Regions from separate parts of the Homo sapiens genome. Here region 2 is linked to region 1. The links come from fine-mapping of genetic effects on gene expression. Tissue or cell type: thyroid. Region 1 holds a variant in brackets; the other region holds the start of a gene. All regions are shown on one strand. Distances are between the middles of the regions.

Evidence for each region. PIP is the estimated chance that this variant, and not a neighbour inherited with it, causes the effect.
Region 2: it holds the start of PLAGL1, and the variant in region 1 is fine-mapped to the expression of PLAGL1 in thyroid (GTEx, PIP above 0.99).

What each region holds. Positions count from the first base shown.
Region 1 is chr6:143,947,492-143,952,644 of GRCh38, forward strand. PLAGL1 (PLAG1 like zinc finger 1) reads right to left here. Exons shown (of 8, transcript NM_001317162.2): 7 at 494-969. The coding sequence starts at 645. Among named protein-coding and RNA genes, the nearest start is that of HYMAI, 58 kb to the right of the region's middle. The variant G/A (reference allele first, on the strand shown) is at 2,188.
Region 2 is chr6:144,006,154-144,011,306 of GRCh38, forward strand. PLAGL1 (PLAG1 like zinc finger 1) reads right to left here and starts at 2,106. Exons shown (of 8, transcript NM_001317162.2): 1 at 1,937-2,106. It overlaps HYMAI (hydatidiform mole associated and imprinted), which reads right to left and starts at 2,106. Exons shown (of 1, transcript NR_002768.3): 1 at 1-2,106. RefSeq lists silencers at 1,535-1,717, 1,913-2,102, 2,293-2,342.

The sequences.
Region 1 (5,153 bases):
TTTAGCCTCATCTGCTCCTCCTCGGATAGTACCCTCTGCACATGGGTGCTTTAAGGCCAAGACTTATGGCTTTCCCAGAACCTCCTCTCTGCCTCCTCCTCTTTCATTGTGTCACAGCTTAAAGATTGTCCCCATCTGAGAAGCCGTCCCAGGTTTCATCAGGCAGTGAAGAACAACTTCTACCACCTGTATAGCTCTGTCAAAGCAGTGAGGTTGCATTTTAATTGTCTTTTCCTATTTCTCCAGCCATGGGGAGAGGCCTGGTATATTGTAGGTGCATAAAAAATCTCTGTTGAAAGAATGAACTGACACTGCACAACAAGACGGTCACATAAAACCACAGGAATCACTGGATGCAGATTTCAAGAATCCCTCAAAGGCTAAAATGCATCCATATCCTGTGTCCCTTTCCCCTTGCATCGTGTGGTCTGAGGGCTAGAAAAGCCATTTAAACGTACTTCTAAAAGTGCATACCTTTGCCAAAGCCTCTCACCTCATCAATTTATATCTGGAAACAAAGGCTTTGCCACAGTCAGGCTGCACACACTTGTACGGCCGCTCCCTGGAGTGGGAATAATTGTGAATCGTGAACTTCTCCAGGGTGAGGAACGTCTTGCCACATAACTGGCAGGGGAACGTGGCCATGGGCTTTGCTTCTCACACCTTCCTTTTCAGATGTGCTGACCAAATGCTGTGCCATTTAAGCACAAACAGAACGATGGTGCTGGGCACATCAGCAGAGTCCCTGCAGCTGAACTCCAGACCACGGGAGAGGCAGCATCGTGGGCCTGGTTCTACCCAGACATGGACCTCTCAGCTGTCACTAGCTTTGCTTCCTGCTTTCACACATCCCAGTTTACATGCAGTCTCAAGCTGAGGGGAGAAAGTCTGAGGCACAGGTGCGATTCAGGAGCAGAAAGGTAATCTGCATCACTATAGCTGGGGCATGTCCTGGGTCCCCCGGATTGGCTGTGGAGAGAAGAGGAACAGTTTTCTTGCATTAGCCATTTGAAAACAATGCTTTTCCTCCCTGACCGCTTCAGAATCAACTACCCACAATCAACACGTTCCTTTAAATGGTGCTCATGGAACACAGTTCTCCATGTGAGAGGGCCATCTGCATACAAGTCTACACTTTTGGCTTCTCAGAGGGTGAGGAGTCAAGCACTGATGGCCAGTGGAGCACACTTTCCCTCTGGTAAGGAGAGTTCTTTCCACGGATCCAGTATTATCTATTTCAGGTCAGTGTGAAGCTCCATTGACCAAAGAGAAAAACAACAACAACAACAACAACAACAACAAACAAAAACCTCCCTCCCTCAGTGTGTTCAAGTGTTTTTACTGGTCCATAAACAAAAATCACCCACACTTACTCAAACCACGGGCTCTTCCTCATCACTCATTGTTGGCATAACATTAGTTGCTTATCACACCTGTTTAAACTTCCAGAGGATAAGAAATAATTTGTATACACCTAAGTCAATTTGTTTGTAAGATTACTCTGCAGAAGGGCTGATATAAACAGAATGTGCATGAAGCTAGTCTAGTCTAGTTGCACTGATGTGGTGGCACAAAGCTGATAGCTCAGGAACCAGCCCAGGCCACGTTCAGATTTGTAGGCACCATCCTCTAGTAAGTTCTACTAATCTCTTCCTTTTTTGTTTATGGACCTTTCTTCATTCCCTGGCCCTACCCTGGAGGGCCCATCCAGCTACCTGCTGGTAGGCCACCTCCAGGAGATGGGCCTACTGCCTCCTCAAACCCAACTTGTCTCAAACCCAAATCATTATCATCCTTCTGACTCAGCCAGAGTCACCAAAAACCAGGTTCTTCTTTTTCTACCAATTGGCCATCATTGGAGGAACCTGAAGTGTCTGAGCCTGCATCATGAACAATACTCCACTTACTAGGGTGGCTTTCCACCCAAGCTGAGAAACTGTGTTCCAAAAATTTACACTTGGAGATGTCTCCTCCTAGCTTCACTCTCAGGACCTGGACCAACCCCCCACATTTCATCCCTGGACTCTGACAGCAGGTTTCAAATCGGCCTCTACCTGCCACTACCTGCCAGGGTAAAGCCCTGGATCACTACCACCCTGTGCTATTCTAGAGAGAGATTTTCAGGTGGGCAAATGCTCACCTTTCAAGTGCCAATACTTAAAAAAATTAAGAGTACTGTATGCTTAG[G/A]TGAAGTACACTTGAGTAGCTTTTGTCCACAGGCCAGCATTTGCTGAACTTTGCCAGTAAGCAGGGCACTTCATGGTAAACTGACCAATTGCAGTGAGTCTTTAAAGCCCTCCCTGCTCCTTGCAGTCATTTATTGCCATGTCTCTAGAGTTGCTCTTTATTGTTAAAAGTTAATTTTTACTTACCTTTTTGGTTACTTTCAGATCAGAAAGTATGAGTCTAACTAGATGAAACTTTATTGTAATAACAGTTTAAACATGTTTAAATATAGCATTATGTAGCACACGGACATAACCAAACACATATTCCTTTTCTAACCAGCAAAAATTCCAGGAAACTTGTAGAGTTCCTCATCTTCTGTTGTAGATGTTTTCAGTGTCTGGACAGAGTTCGCGGTACCAAGCAAATACCCCTCACCATCCTGCCTCACCCACTTGGAAACGTGAAAGCTGACTCGGGCACTTTTGGTCAGCGCTAATCCAAACCAGGGGACACACAGGAGTCCTCGGCCAGCACCTTGGCACCACACCTTCTTTGTGACGGCTGTGATTCTAGCAGCACACACAACCTCTGCAATTATGTGTGACTTTAACTAATTACCTGTCCCGGCTCTGCCCAAACCCCTTTCCCCCAACCCCTGGTTCCCTTCCAGTATTCTAGTTCATGCCTGAGGCCCTATCTTGAGGAATCCTCAACAGCCCTGGTCACAAACAAAATAACTCCTTCTAGGAATTCTATTCCGCCTGCCGAGTTTGCTCTGCTAGGTATCATGATCTGTTCTACTTCTCACCCAGCCTAAGTTTGGCCATAATACCGGCCCAGCTATAAAACACACTCATTCACTTAGAATTGCTCTGTGTTCTTTCTAGGTTTATTAAAAAAGACTAACACACACAGAGTATGAAGTTTGAAAATGCATCTTTTTCTCATTCCCTTTATAGCTGAACTCAAAATAGCACTCGTCCCACTCGCCCCTTCAGAGAAGGAGCTGCTTTGTTGGGGAAGGTTTTACATTTCTCTCACCTACTTAACACCCTGCATATACACTTTTCTCAACTTATCTCAGTAAGTTGATTCTCCCCAATTCTTGCTTTATGAGATGACTGGCATGTCCAACAGAACTTTCTGCAATGATGGAAATGTTACAGATGTGATGGCTACTGAGCACTCAAAATGTGCCTCTGAGAAACTGAAACTTTTACTTTATTTAACTTTAATTTAAATTGCCACATAGTGCCAGTGGCTGCTGTCCTGGACGGCACAGGCAGACTCTTGGTATTCCCATCAAAGGAGAGGAAGGCAAGGCTGTGCTTTCCTTGGACACAACTGTGCTACTGATTGAGCCTCAGGTGTTTACCCTGAAGCTATAAATCCAGGCACTTGTTCTGTGAATCCAGTGGAAAGATTCCCCAGTTCAAATTCCAACTTACCCATGTTATCTGTGTCGAGTTTCAGTTTCCTCATTTGTGATAGTTACCTGATGTATGTAAACAGGCTGCTGGGACAATCGACTGAGACAAAATGGATCTGAAAGCACACTGTAACCTAAATAAACACCCTACAAATAGGCAGTATTTATGAAACACTGGAATTAAAAGTACTATAGAACCATGTGTCAATGTACAGCTCATGTTCTAACCATTTAGCTATGGATGTAATGGGAAAGAGACACATTCTCTCCCTATGGATACTACACCATATCAATTATACTGGAAAGAAGTGGCAGTGTGGACAACACACGTGTAGAAAGGACACAAGAGGTGGCAAGTAAAACGCCTGCATTCTTTCTCAGCAGATGTAAACCTTGACTCATTGCTTACCAAACACACTAGGAGTACAAAGAAAAAAATAAAGCTTATTCAATTGAAAAACTTGCCCTTTGGCACTGAATGAGGTTTTCCAGATCTCTTTCCAGCCACTTCTTCCCAAGATTCAAAAGGCCAGCAGTCATGGACATCACCCATGCCTACATTTCCCCTGAGCCCTCAAAGATGAATGGGACAATCTGAGCATTAGACATGGCCATGGTTTAAAGGTGAGGCACATTTCCTCCAACTTCAAGTTTCCCTCAAAGACTAAAACACAAAGTCTCTCGTTTTTATGCTTATTTCATGAATATCTTTTCCCAAGGCTTTGAGTTCCAGGTCTGTGTGTTTAATATACCTAGCCTAATACTAATTGCAAAGTTGGTCCTCAGAACTAAGTTAGTTATATAATAGTGAACATTCTTTAATTTCTTCAGAGAGTCCTTAATGAACTCAAATTCATAATTTTTAATCACCGTAACTATGTATTTCTTCCATATGGGCCTTAGAATACAAATATTTGTTTTCATGATATAATAATAAACTTCTGTAAAAACAAGACTGTCTACCCCAACAGACTATAAACGCTTTGTGGCTGAGGGTCAAAGCTTAGCTATTAAAAAACGACAACAACAACAACAACAACTGTGGGTATATACAACATCTCTCATCACCACGCACTTGATCAGTTCAAAGGCTGTTTACTGATGAGTCCAATCTTTGGTTGAAACCCAATGCACTTTCTGGCCACATCCTTAAAACAATTTATGACAACTTTCTATTATCTGGCAGGCCACCAACGATCCTAACAGAACTTACAGAGCAATGGTCCTGATGCGAGTCATTCTGTTCTGTGACTTGACATAGAAATTGCATTTGAGTCTTAAATACGGTGCTATTTCAACACCTGTCACCCTAGAAAGATAGTAAGTCTTACCCCAAAACATCTCAGGACATAATTTTCAGTCCCCTTGATTCTAAAAATACTGAGTGATACAGATCTGCCAGTATGCCAAAGAAGGCTTGTGCCATCTGCTTCGTTCTGCTCATGTTGATTATTTTGGGGATGAGAGAGGATCAGACGGGAAGAAGAACATATATATATGGTAACAGCCAGGAAAGACTGTGTTCCCAGGGGACAGGGGTATACGAGGGTGGAGG
Region 2 (5,153 bases), 59 kb after region 1:
TATGAAATAAAACATTACTGATAAATTCCCTAGGTACTCCTCCCTGAGCAAGATTTTTTTTTTCTAAAAAGAAGCCAGGAAATAAGAATAACAGACGGAGAGCCCTAGACTCAGGCTTCTTCAGTTTGCAACACCCATATTTTAACATATTTGGGGGGAAATGTAACATTCAAACCCAGTGTGTATCATTTAACAAAGAGTTACAAAGCAAACACCCATGTAACCATTGCACAGGTCAGGCGATAAAGCATTTCCAGCATCTCTGAGCCCCTGACCCTCTCCTCCCCACTAGGAGATGACCATTAGCTTGACTTTTTTTCTTTACTACTTTTAATGCCTATACATGCATCCCTAAACAACAGCTTTGCTCCACCAGGTTCTGAATTTTACATAGAAGATATCACACAGCATTCTCCGGCAACTTTTTTTTTTTTTGGTTCAACACTGAAAGGCATTTGTGTTGAAACACAAAAATACTTCATTGGCCACTGTACAGTGTGCCCTTTTTATGAGTGGTGTATAATTTATCTTTCTCCTTCAGGTAGGCATGAAGGCGGCATCCAGTTTTCTGCCATTACAGTCAACCTTCTTGTACACGTCTGCTTGTGGACATGTATTAAAATTTATCTAGGGCAGTGGCTTTCAAACTTTTTTGTCCATGACTCATACTAAGGAATGACGTTTTACATCATGACACACATTTGTGTATGTATGAAACTGAGGAGGGGGAGAGAGATTCATAAAGCGAACACCCCTATGACCTGAGAGACACTGATGTTCTATTCTCCGTCTGTGTTTTACAAATTCTGATCATCCATTTAAATGACTTTACGACCCACTAAAATGGACTTCAAATTCTGAAAAACATTGTTCTTAAGGATGAATACCCAGGCGTGCAACTGCTGGATCAGGAAACACGGACATCGGACGTCGTCAACTTTTCCAGATCCTTAACTGTTAAATGTTCTTATCTAAGCGCATATAAATTTACCACTATTTAACTTCAGAGCGAAAAGCGTGAAACATCAGAGAACATTTTATCTTTTCCCTCGGTCATTAAACAGTATTAATCACTTACCATGTGCTAAGTAAGCAATCTCTGAGCCCAGCGAGACCGGTGGGTTAATACGCGGAGGGGCTGCGGGGGAGGACTTAGGGGACCAGGACCTCAGTGAGGCCCCAGAAAGCACCCGGGAGGGGCCTCCGATCCTGCCTGGGAGGGAGGGGTTAGAGGAGGATTCCTGGAAGAAGGAGGACCTAAGCTGGGTGTTTCTATTTTTGATTTTTATTGGTTTCCTAAAACATGAAAGTAACACATTTGATGAGAAAAAATATTCAAAATTACAGGAGTATATTCAGTAAAAGGTAGAAATCCCCATTCCGCCCTGAAAGTTGGATGCGGAGACTAACAGAAGTCGCATTATCAGCTGTCCCGATCTAGGAAATTTTTAGGACCCCACGTTTTTAAATACTTTTAAGAGTATGTCTGATACAGTCTGTAATACTAAAGCATCAAAATAATCATATTTTCCATAAGAGACGAAAGTGCAAACAGTTACTGTCTAGTCCCATTATTACTTGGAACAGACTTTTTCTTCTTTTCCTTGTTCTGTTTTTTTCCTGGCCCGTTGGCGAGGTTAGAGCGCCAGGTTGTAAGAATCGGGTCTGTGGACCTCATACCAGATAGGCGCGAACGCCTCTGGCAGCGGCGTCCAGGGGGTCCGGCGGCACTCGCGGTGGGGCTGCCTGGGTTGCGGGTGACGATCTGCGGGGTCCCGCACCCGGCCCCGCGGAGCCCGGACCCGCACGTAGGCGGCGCGGCAAAGGCACACCCTCCTCGCGGCCGCGAACCCAGCGCCGTCCTCGCAGCGCGGCAATGCACGGCCACCGCTGCCCCCAGCCCGCCCGCCGCAGCCGCGAGCACCCAAACACCTACCCTGCGGGGCGACGACCCCCGGAGCTCAGGCGAGGCCGCTCGGGCGTGCCACCTCCGCGGCCATGACGGCGACCCGGGGAAGCGCCCCGCGCGCCAAGGCCCCGCGCTGCTGAGCTGTGAGCACGGCTGCCCCGTCCGTCCGTCCGTCCAGCACCCGCCCGGAGAGTGAGGCCAGAGCACGCCCCAGCCGTGTCTAAATCAAGGCTCGGGGCGGTACCGACGGGCTGAATGACAAATGGCAGATGCCGTGGGCTTTGCCGCCCGCGGCAGCCAAGAGGATGGCTGCGCCGAGGAGGCCGCGCGCAGGCGGGGCTCGGGAGCCGGAACGGCGCGGCCGCGAGGAGGGCGCTGGGGCCCCTGGCGGGGGCGTCACGTGGCAGGAGGAGGCCCCGCCGGGGAGCTGGGGGTCGGCGGCCGAGGCGGGGGGAGCTGAGCGGCACCCACACGTCCTGCGGGCCGGGTCACCGGTGGGGGCAAAGCCAAGGTCGCCCAGGTACAGCGCTGGCGCAGGTAGACCCGAGCCGGCCTGGGGTCTGCAGCGGGGCCTGCTAGCCGAAGTCTCCGCCAGGATGGGCCGCCAGAGCCCAATCACACATGAGAAACGCGACAGATGCTGGGACGCTGCAATAGGCCAAACTAACTTACCTCCTGTGCCAGCAGCGCCCAAGTGCAGCTGCCCAAACGTGAGCACTGACCGTGAGCCAGGCACTGTCCTAAGCACTTTGCAGGTAAATACGTGTAATCCTCACAGCAACACTGGGAGAAATACCCGTCTCACAGCTGAAGAAACGAAGACGCAGAAAGGGTAGACAGAAGTAATTTTCTAATTACGGTATCACACTACGTCTGCTTCATATAATTTCAAATTTTTCATGTTACTGGAATTTAAGAAAAATAAACTGAAGGGAATCTCTATTGCTTTCTTCCCTAAAAGACGTGCTTTTTAAAAGGCCTATAAGCATTACGTAAAAAGATTAAGAGAGGTGTAAGGAGCTCACTACATGTTCGGGTTTAGAAAGTCTCATAGCTCTGAAAGATGAGGTTAATTAGCATCATACACCTCCACCTACCTTTAGGGGGTAACCCTGCCTCTCAATTTCCATTAGTTCTGTTACTTTCGGCTTCCTAGCAATGAGAACATTTGCAATTGCTCTGCAACTTTATTTTTCCAGATGTTGTCTTAATTCTATCTTTAAATGAATTTGATATTCACTGTAACTTATCTATCCCTGAATTTTTATTTTTATTTAGTTCTTGATGGACTTCCTTCATTTTCAAGTCATATTCCTAAGGAGGGTTTATAGAGTGCTGCCATGTTTGAGAAGATCTGGTGTTTTTCTCTATACATAAATAAAAAGTGAGTTGGGTAAATATTTTCAATTCACACCTTCCTTCAAAACCTAACAGAACAAGATGGCAATTGCTTTATTTATTTTTTTATTATACTTTAAGTTTTGGGATACATGTGCAGAACGGGCAGGTTTGTTACATAGGTATACACATGCCATGGTGGTTTGCTGCACTCATCAACCCGTCATCTACATTAGGCATTTCTCCTAATGCTATCCCTACCCCACTAGCCCCCCACTCCCCAACAGGCCCCAGTGTGTGATGTTCCCCTCCCTGAGTCCATGTGTTCTCATTGTTCAACTCCCACTTATGAATGAGAACATGCGGTGTTTAGTTTTCTGTTCCTGTGTTAGTTTGCTGAGAATGATGGTTTCCAGCTTCATCCATGTCCCTACAAAGGACATGAACTCATCCTTTTTTATGGCTGCATAGTATTCCATGGTGTATATGTGCCACATTTTCTTAATCCAGTCTATCACCAATGGCCATTTGGGTTGATTCCAAGTCTTTGCTATTGTGAATAGTGCTTCAATAAACATACGTGTGCATGTGTCTTTACAGTAGAATGATTTATAATTCTTTGGGTATATACCCAGTAATGAGATTGCTGGGTCAAATGGTATTTCTGGTTCTAGATCCTTGAGGAATTGCCACACTGTCTTCCACGATGGTTGAACCAATTTACACTCCCACCAACAGCGTAAAAGCGTTCCTATTTCTCCACATCCTCTCCAGCATCTGTTGTTTCCTGACTTTTTAATGATTATCATTCTAACTGGCATGAGATGTTACCTGATAAGCAACTTCAGCAAAGTCTCAGGATACAAAATCAATGTGCAAAAATCACAAGCATTCCTATACCCCAATAGTAGACAAATAAGAGAGCCAACACATGAGTGAACTCTGATTCACAATGGCGACAAAGAGAATAAAATACCTAGGAATACAACTTACAAGAGATGTGAAGGACCTCTTCAAGGAGAACTACAAACCACTGCTTAAGGAAATCAGAGAGGACACAAACAAATGGAAAAACATTCCATGCTCATGGATTGGAAGAATCAATTATCATGAAAATTGCCATACTGCCCAAAGTAATTTATAGATTCAATGCTATCCCCATCAAGCTACCATTGACTTTCTTCACAGAATTAGAAGAAACTACTTTAAATTTCATATGGAACCAAAAAAGAGCCCGTATAGCCAAGACAATCCTAAGCAAAAAGAACAAAGCTGGAGGCATTACACTACCTGACTTCAAACTACACTACAAGGCTACAGTAACCAAAACTGCATGGTACTGGTACCAAAACAGATATATGGACCAATGGAACAGAACAGAGTCCTCAGAAATAACACCACACATCTACAACCATCTGATCTGTGACAAACCTGACAAAAACAAGCAATAGGTAAAAGATTCCCTAGTTAATAAATGGTGTTGGGAAAAACTGGTTAGCCATATGCAGAAAACTGAAACTGGACCGCTTCGTTACACCTTATACAAAAATTAACTCAAGATGGACTAAAGACTTAAAACATCAGACCTAAAACCATAAAAAGCCTAGAAGAAAACCTAGGCAATACCATTCAGGACATAGGCATGGGCAGAGTTCATAACTAAAACACCAAAAGCAATGGCAACAAAAGCCAAAATTGACAATTGGGATCTAATTAAACTAAAGAGCTTCTGCACACCAAAAGAAACTATCATCAGACTGAACAGGCAACCTACAGAATGGGAGAAAATTTTTGCAATTATCCATCTGACAAAGGGCTAATATCCAGAATCTACAAAGCACTTAAACAAATTTATAAGAAAAAAACAACTCCATCAAAAAGTGGGCAAAGGATATGAACAGACACT